3 separate regions of the Homo sapiens genome follow, and regions 2 and 3 are each linked to region 1. Evidence: fine-mapped QTL for protein levels in blood plasma. Region 1 holds a variant in brackets. A gene starts in each other region. All regions are shown on their reverse strands.

Region 1 (4,000 bases):
CCACATCCCACCATTGCTTCCCAGTTGGGACCCCAGGGATGGCTGTTTCCTGGGAAGACACCACCTTCCTCCCTGTCTGACCTGCCAGGAAGCAGGGGATGCGCGCCGAGCGGTTGGTGAGGAGACAGGGGTCATCGTGCAGGTTGTCGAAGGGCAGCAGGGCCCGGCCGTTGTCTTGAAAGCGCTGGTTGATGGCCAGCAGCCCCAGGTAGTTGGTCCGGTTGCGGAGCCGCAGCGAGAGGGAGACCTCACTGCCATACACCATGCTGGCGTCCACAAAGGAGGTGAGCGCGTTGATCTGGTTGCGGACTCTGTTCTTGTTTTGGGGGCATGAGGGTGCCGAGCGGAAGAAAGGGATGCAGTCACGCTGGTTCTTGATGCGGGGGTCATTGGGTGGGATCTGAGATGGAAGAGGAGACAGTGACATGGGGCCCCCTCAATAGCAGACTCACTCCTCTCCGTCATCTTCCACCTCCTCAAAACCTTGCTTAAAACTCCCTTCCTCCAGGAAGCCCTCCTTGACTCACCCAGGCTCATGCTGCTCACCCCGTCAGTCTGAGTGTCCTTAACATTTTGTTTCATAGAGTCTCAAAAGGTTAGGAATGAATGAGGCTTTTGAAACAATCTCGATCCTCATTTTACAGCAAGGAAAACAGCCTCAGAGAGGGGAAGTGACAACCAGTTAGCAGGAAAGGTGGGATTAGAACTTAGTTCTCTTGACTCTTAGGCCTGAGCTTCTTTAATTCTGTTCAATTCGACAGACCTTTTCTAAGCCCCTTTCTTGCTTGCTGCTTTGGAGATTATGAAGGTTAAAAAAACACAGGAAAGGTTGCAGGAAGCTGGCAGTTCAGTGGAAAAAGACACACACACATAGAGTTAAGAAACTAAGTTGAAGTGGCATCTGCTGTGCTTGATAGAAAAGCCATATGTGGGCCAGGTGTGGTGGCTCACGCCTATAATCCTAGCACTTTGGGAGGCCGAGGCAGGTGGATTACATGAGGCCAGAAGTTTGAGATCAGCCTTGTCAACATGGTGAAACCCAATCTCTACTAAAAATACAAAAATTAGCCAGGCTTGTTGGCACATGCCTGTAATCCCAGCTACTCGGGAGGCTGAGGCATGAGAACTGCTTGAACCCAGGAGGCAGAGGTTGCAGTGAGCTGAGATTGCCCCTCTGTACTCCAGTCTGGACAACAGAGTGAGATTCTGTCTCAAAACAATAATAATAATAATAAAGAAGAAAGAAAGAAGGAAAGATAAAGAAAGAAAGGACGGAAGAAAGAAAAAGAAAGAAAAAGAAAGAAAGAAAGGAAGGAAGGAAATGAAGGAAGGAAGGGAAGGAAGGAAGGAAAGGAAAGAAAGAAGAAAGAAAGAAAGAGGAAGGAAGAAGGAAGGAAGGAGAGAGAGGAGAGGGGAGGGGAGGACATATGTTAAAAGTGTAATAGGAAGATCTGAGAAGGCTCCCCAGAGGAGGTGCCCCTAAGCCAGGGATTGAGGAATAGATAAGGTTGCAACAGGGAGAGGCCATCCAGAGGCCCTCACATGTCATCCCTCATGAATGTGGCCCCACCTATTAAGGGTGACTGTGTGTGTACATGTGTGTGTGAGAGGGAGCGTGTGTGTGCACGTGTGTGTGTGTGAGAGAGTGTGTGTGTGCACGTGTGTCAACCCTATGTTCCTAGCAGAGACTCTGCTCCCTGGATTCTATCTTTCCTCCCCTAGTGCCCCACACTGTCCTTGGCTTCTAGCCTGAAGGTTAGGACCCTACTTACAGCCCAAGCCCAAGAAGCTGGCAAGAGCCGCAGGACCCTTGGACTACTCTGGGAAGGAGAGAAGGGCAAGAGCTAAGAGGCCCTTAGGTTGCCAAAAGCAGGGGCCCAGAGGCTTCCCCTGTTGGATTCAGACCCATGGGTCAAGGCATGTGTCAAGGGCTTCCCACTCCATGAAGCCTGACCTGAGCCTCCTGGCAGATTGCCCTACCCCCACCTCTCAAACACACACGGCGCGGGGTCTCTGCTCAGCTGTGTTTCTTGTGTCTCTGTCTCATACCCTAGCTCCACAGGCAGCTCCTTAAGGATGGTGCTCCAGTCTTCCAGATCCCCACCCCCAGCACCTTGCCTTTGGGGGAGGCCACACAAGGGCATGGGAGATTGGCTGAGGGTAGGTACCTTGATGGGAAAGCAGGGGGGCAGCTGGGC[G/T]CAGGTCCTCTCACAGTCAACGCCTGCAGTGAAGGCCACTCTGGCCGGGGACTCCGGGGAGAAGTCCAGGTCATGGTCAATGAACTGGCCCCACTGCATGAACATGAGGGCTCGGCCACGGTCGGAGGTCAGTCTCTCATTGGGGAAGCGCACAATCTGGTTGGAGACAGCCCGGACCTGGTGGGGAAATAACATCAGCACGGGACATGGGCTCCCTGACCCCACAAGGTATTAGAGCCAACCCAGGACTCAGGGAGCAGCAGCTCCCCTGCTGGAATTGACAGCCTCTCCTCTTCTGCCCTCCATGCCCCTTTTGTCCCTGGAGGCGTAGCCACCTCCTGCTCTCATTCCTAGAAGGATGGTTTCTGGCTGGGCTCCTGAGGATTCCGGTGGTAAAGAGAAGGAGAGGGGCTAGGTTGACTGGCTCAGACCTCACCAGCTCTCCCAGAGGGGAAGGGAGATCAAATAGATAGATCAATTTGTACACTGATAGCTAACCAGATGATAGCACGGATTCACAGGTGCATGGGCTGGTTGCCAGGTGATGGATAATACACGTAGGGAGTACGGGGTCAGCAGATGGAAGGGTGGATAGAAGAAAATTAATTAATAGATGTTGATAGATGGGTAGATGATAGACTGCTCTATCGATATATCAATAGAAAACTGATGAGTTGATAAATGTGAAATAGATCAATAGATAAAGCCAGATTAAGGTATAGAGCTGTTTATATTTAGCAAGACTTTGACACTAATTTTCTCAGAAAAAACCGTACAACACCGTAATGGTTAGCATGAATAGATCATGTCCTCTATAGCTATTTATACCAAGGACTTCAATATCCACACAGGCTCTACGAGGTAGGTTTTAGGGCCATTTTACAGATGAGGAAACTAAGCCTCAGAAAGCTGTGTTATTTGCCTCAAGTCACTGCACTGGTCAGTGGAAGGGCCTGGGTTCAAGCCCTGCCTGCGTGACTCTGGGCTGTGTTTTACTCCCCGCATTTAAGAGATCAAGCAACCTCCCAAACCCTCAGCCCCAACTCACAAGAGGGAGAAGGAAGCCATTGCGCCTCCTGCTGGGGGTCCAGCCGAAGGGGAGCGACAGCCCATCCTCATACTCGGCGGGCAGCCAGCGAGCCAGAGCCTGGTTGGAGGCCCCTAGCAAGGGTCTCCTCCTGCAGCCATGGGTGGGATAGGTTAGCAGGGGGCAGGGCCTGGAGATGGCTCAGCATGGAGGGAGAGGGTGGGTGCAGGAAGGGAGAGGTCCCCCAGGCAGGGGCAGCCCCTCCTGCCGCCCCGCACGCACTTGTTGTTGCACCGTCCAGTGATGGTGCGGTACTTGTCGCTGCAGCGCTCGGCCTGGTCCCGGAGAGCACAGCCACTGGCCTGGGACAGCAGCCGCAGCTGTGGTTCTGTTAGCACATCTGTGGGAAGGCAAATGGGCAGACCTGAGCTGGCCTGCTCTGTACCTCCCATCCCTTTACCCTCTCTCCTCCCAGCACCCCAAACCTGTGCACCCTGCCTCCCTCTCCTGGATTCCTTCTACTCCAGGCCAGGGTAGGCCCAGCGGGCTCAGTGGGGATCAGAGTACCAGTGACATTGAAGGGTCCGGACCGCTGGGGTTGTAACTTCTCTTCAAGCAGCCCCAAAGCCACATGCATATAATCTGCGGCCCGAACAACTGTCCTGGTGGCTGCTACCGGTTGTTTGAAGTAGGACAGGAGGTCCATGGGGCTGGCTGAACCGCTGCGAAGCCGCTGCTTGATGCTGCCCAGGAGAGGAGGAGTGAGGGCTGGAGA
Region 2 (4,148 bases), not on the chromosome of region 1:
GTGGGTCTCCTAAAGGGGTCTTCATGTCAACTGGATAGTCAGTGCTACATCTGTGAAAGTCCAAGCCATGGAAAGACAGGAAGAAGCAGAACTGCCCGGAGAGCTCACAGCTTTCCCTTCTAAGAAAGTGTGTGTGTGAGGGGGTGGGATCGCAAAACGCCTTCACACGTTTCCTGGCTGCAGTGAAGGGGGAACCCCTACTCTCACTTTAAGACGTCCCAGGACATGGCAAGATTGTTTGTGCAGAAAGGGAATCTCCCAGACAGAAAAGGCAAAACTTTCCTCCTCTCTTCCAGCGCCGCCCCCACCTCCGCTCCCCAGTTTTATTAAAGGCATTTCCACAGATTCATTTAGAGGGGGGAAAATGGATGCTGGAGCATTTCTAAGGTTTGCAATCCTCGCAAAGTGTCCGATTTCACTATAGGCTTTGCTGTGGAACAGCGAAGGGGAGAGAGAGGGAGGTTGAGGAGGGAGAACTCAAATTCATTACGGGCTCATAAAGTCCCATATGAGAAAAGCGCCCCGTTTCGCAGCCGCGTCTGGGGAACGCTGGCGGGGTATGCGTTAGGAAGGTCTCGTCCCAGCCCCGAGTGACAGGCAATGGGCTTTAAAAGCTAGGACATGGGATGGCGTGGAGGGGGTGAGGGTGAGTCCCAGAGGCAGGCTTCAATCAGTGAGCAACTTTGGGGCACTTCGAGGACTTCTAAGTCCTGGCCATTACAACAACCTTGCCCTTGCCGGCTTTCAGGGGAATGGGGCCTAATGAAGGGGAGTTACCTCCATTAAAACGTCAAAGAAATCAACGGTCCCCAAGTCTCCTTTCACATGCATCTCAATTGGGTCATCCTCCCTTTCATCCCAAAAGGAGAGAGTGCATCTGACCATTCGGAGCACGGGTTACGTGCCCTAGGCTCCGGGAACCAGCCCTCACTGGCCGAGGGTCCGCGGGGCCGCCAGGAGGGCTCCCCAGGTTCCTCCCAGGGATGGAGCAGCTACGCCTTCCGAGTGTGCCCATTCCACCGATGGAGCAAAGTGAGGCTCTCAGCTCGCCCGGATGTCTCTGCGCCGCTCGCGGGGCAGCTCTCGCACAGACACGCCCGCAAGCCCCCGACCCGCCCGCCACCCGCGCCCAGACACCCGCGAGCCTCTGGGGCCGCAGGGACGGTGCAGCGCCCGCCGAGGCGCCCTCACCTACCTGTGATCACTGCCGGAGACCTCTGGCCCCCCTCCGCTCGCAGCCACACTTGCAGCGTGAACGCGTCCCGGGGCAGCTCGAGGTCGGCCCGGAGGCGCAGCTGCTCGCCTCGCCCGCTGAAATAGAGCGCCCGGCTCGGCGGGCTCGGCTCCTCGGTGGCGCCCCTCGCCTCCCGCTGCTGCCGCCGCCGGGGGACGCGCACGGCTTCCCAGGCACCGCCCGGCGGCGGCGGCGGCGGCGGCGAGGCGCGGCGGCCGCGGGCCGCCCGGGTGGCGCAGGTGGCCGGGCCGGCGGCGGGGCGCGGGGGTCGGCCGGCCCGCGGGTCTCTCCGGGCCCGGCGGGGACGCTCGGCCAGCCCGCAGCCCAGCGCGGCGCTCAGCAGCCCCAGGTGCAGCACCCAACTCCAGAGCCGCATGTCCGACGGTTCCCCCCGCCCCCCCTTCGCCCCTGCACCGCCACCCGGAGCTGCCAGCTTTGGGAGCCTCGGCGCCTCGACTTTCTTCGCTTCTTCACCCTTCTTGGGCGAGCCCCCCTTTCCACTTGCTTTTTTCTTTTCTTTCTCGCTTTCCTCCTCAAGGTGTGTGCTCCACTCTCCCCACCTTTGAAAAATACAGCCCAACTCCTCCTGGTTGGCAATTAATTTCTCTCCCCGCTCCTTTATCTGCCTTATTTTTCCCCTAACAGCTGGTTGCCTTCCTCCTTGTTTTATTTCATTTTATTTTATATGATTTCTCGCTCCAAAAAAAAGCTCCTCTTAAGACTGATCCGCTGAATTCCCTCCCCCCAAAAGATGCTCTAATTTATTTATTTTTTGCGTCCTTTATAACACAAGCCACAGCCCCCTTCTCCCCCCCCAAGTCCCCCCTCCCCTCCCTCCTTCTTCTCAAAATGAAAGGAAAGAGGGGGAAAAAATCCCTCAGAAGATGAGTAAACAAGCGTATGCTAATCTGCTCCCCAGCGCTCCACCTTCCCAATTGAATGAGTCCCTGTTAAAACTGCGGGGATCATGACTAATCAATCAGTTTGGAGAGGCCGAGCTATCCAGCTTTCCTTCACTTTGCCTTTTGCCTCCTTTCCTTCGCTCCCGCTTCTCCACCACCCCCTCCTTTTCTCTCTCTCTCTCTCTCTCTTTTTTTTTTTTTTTTTTTAAGGAGACAATCTTAAAGTAACAATTTAATGAAATTCTGTACACACCCCCTTACGGTCCTCCCAGCTCTCATTCCTGCTCAAAACACACATTCCTGTTTTTGTTTTGTTTTGCTTGCTTTTTTTCCCTCCCTCACTCCCCCCACTTATTATTATTATTTCTGATGGCAGGAGAAAAATCTGTCTCTTCTCTTAGGATCCCCTTTGCACTTTGCTGGTAAACCTCATCCTTTTCTGTAGCACATAAAGAGTCTTGAAACTTGATTCTTAGATTTTTTTTTTTAATTCTCTCTCTCTGTCTCTCCCTCCCTCCCTCTCCCTCTCTTTCTCTTTTTCTCACTCTCTCCCTTACTCTTCTTCCCGCTTCCTCTCCCTTTACCTCTTTCCCTCTTCTTTTCCCTGTCCTTTTCCCTCTCAGAATTTCCTTAAAGTTGTACGATGATGAACCATTCCCCTCTTTTCTGAGCCCCCAGATAAGGCTGGCTTCAGCTAACCCAAATGTTTCCAAAGTTCTTATGGAATCATCAGAAGAAAATAGAAGAAAGGCACTGTCCAGGACATCTGCCTTTCAGAAGCTGTAGTCCTAGTACAACTGGGTCTCTGAATTTCCCCGAATACTCTTTAAAATACTCTGTTGGTCATTAGAAATTATTTTAATTTTATAAGAAGAAAATGAGAGAAAAATATTAATTTGCCTAATGTTTTCAACTTAAGCAATTCAGGTCCTCTGAAATTGTTAAAGTCACAGGTAAGGATCTGACCATTTGCTGCTTTGTAGGTCTGTTTTTGAACTGGGACATACATGTAATATATTTTTTTCTTCTTTTTTCCCCCTCTTTATAGAACTCAAAAGCTCCCCCTTATGGCAAAACAGATCTTCTTTTATTTTGTCCAAGTGTTTAATAAGTCAAAACATGTTAGCAATGGTGGATTACAAGCTATTAATTACCAATCTATTCCAATAAGGTAGTGATAAAAATATTCTGTGTGAAGTTTGCATGTGAATAGCGTGCTGAAAGTCTGCGATAAAATTAACTCCACTAAATTGTAACTTTCTTCTTCAATTGCTCTTATCTTCCGAGCTGCTCCAGATCTTTCTTGAGAGCTAGGAACATTGCTACACGCTTCAGGAAGAGAGAAAACCAAGGAAGAATGTTTGTTGGCAAAAGTATGACGATTTGTCGGATGAGCAAATGACTCAGACATCCCCTCTATGAAAGCTGGAATGCGATATATGCAAAGATTATGGAAGCTTTCTGAAAATGGGAGATCTCAGATTCATACCTTCCTAGTTTAGAAAGAAGTTGCTGAATAGTCTTAGACTAAGAACGTTTGAACTCTGTTTCTGTAGTCATAAAATGAAAATAGCACAATACCCTAAATGTGTTTCCAGAGACTGGCTGGAGGAAAGAAAATCTTGGGTGCACAATGTCATGAATAAAGAATTTGCCTAAGCAAATCTTTGACTTTTTGCAACTCCAAGTCATCTGTAAAAGGTTGCCATTGGATAAAAAGAGAGCTATGTTGAACAACATAAATTGTATCATTCAAAATCCCCCTTCCTCTCCAATAGAGGTTGGACCATGACTACTGATTTACTTCAGTTGTGGCAATTAGGCATTTAGAAACTGCATGTCTTCCAGGGGGATTTTAAGTCATTGTATACAATAATTTTGAATATTCCTAGACAACTGGGAATTATTCAATTCTCAGACCAGCAGTGGGAGCACAAGATTTTTACTTCTCATTTCCTACTCCCTCCAACACATATCAGTTCACTGGCCTTGAGTAAGACACTTCATTTCTC
Region 3 (4,166 bases), not on the chromosome of region 1:
ATGGGGGTCTATGCCTCCACCCTCCACCACTAGGGAGGTCTCAAGCTTGAAATCCAGTGACCAGGTTTTTAGGTCCTGGACCTGGCCAGTCCTCCTACAGTCAAGTAGATAAGTGGAGGGTTTGGTCCGTTGGGCTACGGAGATAGTGATCAAGGCCGTTACTCTGCAATCAGACTCAGAAATGGCCTCTCAGTTACTTCTCCATTTGTGGGTCTTTTGGAAGAGCAGAGAAGAGGAAGGAATTTAGGTCTTCTCACCCTCTGGGCTGCCTGTCCCTGCTCCCTGAGCCATGGAGGGCTGGGGTGGAATATGGGGAATAAATCTGTACTTTTTTTTTTTTTTTTTTTTGAGACAGAGTCTCGCTCCGTCGCCCAGGCTGGAGTGCCGTGGCGTGATCTCTGCTCACAGCAGCATCTGCCTCCCGGGTTCAAGTTATTCTTCCACCTCAGTCTCCTGAGTAGCTGGGATTACAGGTGCCCACCACCACGCCCGGCTAATTTTTGTATTTTTAGTAGAGACAGGGTTTCACTGTGTTGGGCAGGCTGGTCTCAAATACCTGACCTCAGGTGATCCACCCGCACATGCCTCCCAAAGTGCTGGAATTACAGGCATGAGCCACCGTGCCCGGTCCTACCAATCTGCACATTTTAATTGACAAGGGTCACCCTCCACTCATGTGCCAGGCATAGTTCTGAGAAGCATCCCACAAGGATGCCTCTGAGTTCACCCTGACAAGTCCACTAGCTCTTGGCAGAGACATCTGGCAAATTCAAGGCTTGAGACATGCTGGCCTCTCTTTAAAGTGCAGCAAATTTTGTCTAGAGCTTGGTCAGTTAAAATTTTGATGTTTTGTTTTGCATTAATTTCAATTTTTAAGAAATGTTGCATTAAAATGTTATTTATCTTGAATAGTAAATTTCTTAGTGTCCCCTTAATTTCTTAGTGTGTCTGAGTTGAGAGCCTCCCCTGCCTGATTCTAGTCCAGACCCTGGGGTGACAGAAGACTGGTGGGAGATGGGAGGTGAGGAGGGGAGTGTTGGTTGGAGAGGATGATCTACAGAGTGCTGGAGAGACTCTGTATGGAGCTTTTCATGCTGCCTGTTTGCCAGCCCTGAAGCTATGCCTTGAGGTTGGGCAAGGTGGCATATCCTAGATCAGAGATCCTCAACTGGGGCCATTTTTCTCCCCAGAGGACATTTGGAAACATGTGGAGACATTTTTGATCATCTGCGGGGGTGGGGAGAGGGGCTACTGACATCTGGTGAGTAGAGACCAGAGGGACCATTAAACTTTCTACAACGCCCAGGACAGCCCCTCCACAATAAAGAGTTATTTGACCTCACATATTAATAGCACAAAGTTGAGGAACCTTGATCTAGATCCACAGCACAGAAGAAAGGATGTAGATTTTTCACACATTAAAGATGAGAAAGCTTGTGCCTGTAATCCCTGTGACTCAGGAGGCTGTGGCAGGAGGATTACTTGAGCCCAGGAATTCAGGGTTACAGTGAACTATCATCGCAGCACTGCACTCCAGCCTGGGTGACAGAGCAAGATTTTGTCTCTTAAAAAAAAAAAAGATGAGGACAGGCACAGTGGCTCATGCCTGTAATCCCAGCATTTTGGGAGGCCGAAGTGGGTGGATCACGAGGTCAGGAGTTCAAGACCAGCCTGGCCAGCATAGTGAAACCCCATCTCTACTAAAAATACAAAAAATTAGCCAGCTACTTGGGAGGCTGAGGCAGGAGAAGCGCTTGAACCCGGGAGGTGGAGCTTGCAGTGAGCCAAAATCTTGCCATTGCACTCCAGCCTGGGCGACAGAGCAAGACTCCGTCTCAAAAAGAAAAAAAAAAAAGATGAGAAAGAGGAAGGGAGAGAAAAAAGAGAGAGAGGAAAGAAAGAGAGAAGGTTTTGGAGTCAAAAAGACTTAGAAATTCCAGTTCTTCCACTTCCCATGGAACCTTGGCAAGTTGCCTTCTCTCTTTCTCTGAATCTCACATTTTGCCTCTGTGAAGTAGGGGTGGTACCTGGTGGAGATGATGCGGAGATGAGGGTGAGGGGTGTGTTGCACACTATGCCCCTAGGATGGGTGAGAGCTTGGGAGCACTGAACCTCCCTTTCCCCTCTTGTTTCTTCCCCCCATTGTCTCCCACCAGCTCCCTGGGATCTCCACTTCACTCTCTGGGATTCCACCAGCAGGAGGCTACTCCTGGAGTTAAGGCGTGTTGTTCAGACTGGGGCATTTTAGGGGGCATAAATAATAATTATGCCTGGACAATGGACATAACATCTAGGGCCTTCTGAAGCAAACCAGGGTGTGGGGTACCCAAACAAGGCAGTAGGCCCCAGGAGGCAGGTCCCTGCAGTCCCAGCAGAGAGCAGGGCACAGGGTTGAGAAGACTGAGCAAACTTCATTATCAGCTCCTTTGTCCCCCACTCTGTCCTGGAGCAATCATTCTGGCCTCTTCCCACTTCCCCAAAAACCCAGTATAAAGGCTGCTTCTGGCCCCTGAAGCCAGAGGCACTGAGAGTGGAGGTCTCAGACTCTTGGAAGGTGAGTTCTTTTCTGGCTGCCCAGGCAGGACCAGTGTAGGCCCTGGGAAGAAGCAGCACCTCATAGGGCAAACACGTAGGAGGCCTGTCCTTAGGAACATCATAGCTAAGCAGACCTGTCCCCGCAGGGGCAGGAGTCTGGGCTAAGGGTGATACTGGAGAGCAGCAACGGAGACTGGAAGACAAATGAAATTTGGTACCTGAGTTATCCCTCCCACCATTCCTTTTCTAGACTCTCCAGCTCAGGGTCTGTTCATGGCAAGAGGAGAAAGCAATCTTGTTTGCTCTTTAATCAAACAATTAAACAAATATTCCCTCTATACTATGTGCCAGGGGCTATACTAGACACACAAAGACAGCCCCAAGAAGGACGGTGGAGTAGTGTCCTCGCTAAAAGACAGTAGATATGCAATGCCTCTTGCTCCTGCCCTTTCTCCTGCTGGGAACAGTTTCTGCTCTTCATCTGGGTAAGTCTCTCCCTTCCCTCCTCATGCGTCTTTCCCTTTTTTCCTTTTTCCTACACTCCCCTCCCCCCGCTTTTATTTGCACTCATGAGGCCAGGACCACAGCCTTCCCTCTTTAGCTGATACAGCTCATCTCCGGTAAGATATCACTTGGACTCAGAACTGTAACCTGGAACTTTCTCTTTTTTGTTTGATTTTTTTTTGTTGTTGTTGTTTTTGTTTTTTTTTTTGTTTGTTTTTTGTTTTGTTTTGAGACGGAGTCTCGCTCTGTTGCCCAGGCTGGAGTGCAGTGGCGCGATCTCGGCTCACCACAAACTCCGCCTCCCGGGTTCAAGCAATTCTTCTGCCTCAGCCTCCTGAGTAGCTGGGACTACAGGCACATGCCACCACGCCTGGCTAATCTTTGTATTTTTAGTAGAGATGGGGTTTCACCATATTTGCCAGGCTGGTCTCAAACTCCTAACCTTGTGATTCGCCCGCCCCGGCCTCCCAAAGTGCTGGGATTACAGGCGTGAGCCACCGCACCCGGCAAACTGTAACCTGAACTTTCAGAAGGAAAAACCACCCACCTGTTAAGATGAAGGGCTGGTGACTGCCCCAGGCTTCTCACACGTGCTTTCTCCCACCTTCAAAACACACACTCGTGGTGTCGGCCAGAAGTCAGGTTCTTGTCCATTTGTGGGTGTGACCCGAGAGATCTCTCCTTACCTAACACCAAGGAAATCCTCCAGTCTTGTCTTCAGGTGGAATTCCTAGGAAAGCTCGAGCGACGTTGCTGGAGCTGTCCACGGTGCTGGAACTAGGAAGCTCTTGACCTGATGGCAGGTTACCTCTTCTTCCCAGAGAATGATGCCCCCCATCTGGAGAGCCTAGAGACACAGGCAGACCTAGGCCAGGATCTGGATAGTTCAAAGGAGCAGGAGAGAGACTTGGCTCTGACGGAGGAGGTGATTCAGGCAGAGGGAGAGGAGGTCAAGGCTTCTGCCTGTCAAGACAACTTTGAGGATGAGGAAGCCATGGAGTCGGACCCAGCTGCCTTAGACAAGGACTTCCAGTGCCCCAGGGAAGAAGACATTGTTGAAGTGCAGGGAAGTCCAAGGTGCAAGATCTGCCGCTACCTATTGGTGCGGACTCCTAAAACTTTTGCAG

Alleles and levels. Positions count from the first base shown, and alleles are read on the strand shown. Strength reflects both the effect of a copy and how common the allele is.
As copies of T replace G in region 1, the plasma level of the protein whose gene starts at base 1,992 in region 2 goes up (weak association).
In carriers of allele T in region 1, the plasma level of the protein whose gene starts at base 2,518 in region 3 tends to be higher than with G alone (moderate association).

What was found. PIP is the posterior inclusion probability: the model's chance that the variant is causal. Protein levels are from antibody-based Olink assays in UK Biobank. Linkage for the fine-mapping came from a reference panel and not from the study's own genotypes, which makes the PIPs less certain.
Region 2: PAPPA starts here. The variant in region 1 is fine-mapped to the plasma level of the PAPPA protein (UK Biobank, PIP above 0.99).
Region 3: it holds the start of PRG3, and the variant in region 1 is fine-mapped to the plasma level of the PRG3 protein (UK Biobank, PIP above 0.99).

Annotation. Positions count from the first base shown.
Region 1 is chr17:58,193,339-58,197,338 of GRCh38, reverse strand. It overlaps EPX (eosinophil peroxidase), which reads right to left. Exons shown (of 13, transcript NM_000502.6): 3 at 3,793-3,968; 4 at 3,508-3,625; 5 at 3,247-3,376; 6 at 2,169-2,375; 7 at 82-400. Among named protein-coding and RNA genes, the nearest start is that of EPX, 2.6 kb to the right of the region's middle. The variant G/T (reference allele first, on the strand shown) is at 2,199.
Region 2 is chr9:116,151,635-116,155,782 of GRCh38, reverse strand. It overlaps PAPPA (pappalysin 1), which reads right to left and starts at 1,992. Exons shown (of 22, transcript NM_002581.5): 1 at 1,196-1,992. The coding sequence starts at 1,610. RefSeq lists a silencer at 126-215.
Region 3 is chr11:57,379,502-57,383,667 of GRCh38, reverse strand. PRG3 (proteoglycan 3, pro eosinophil major basic protein 2) reads left to right here and starts at 2,518. Exons shown (of 6, transcript NM_006093.4): 1 at 2,518-2,554; 2 at 2,887-3,020; 3 at 3,861-4,166. The coding sequence starts at 2,960. RefSeq lists an enhancer at 3,130-4,166.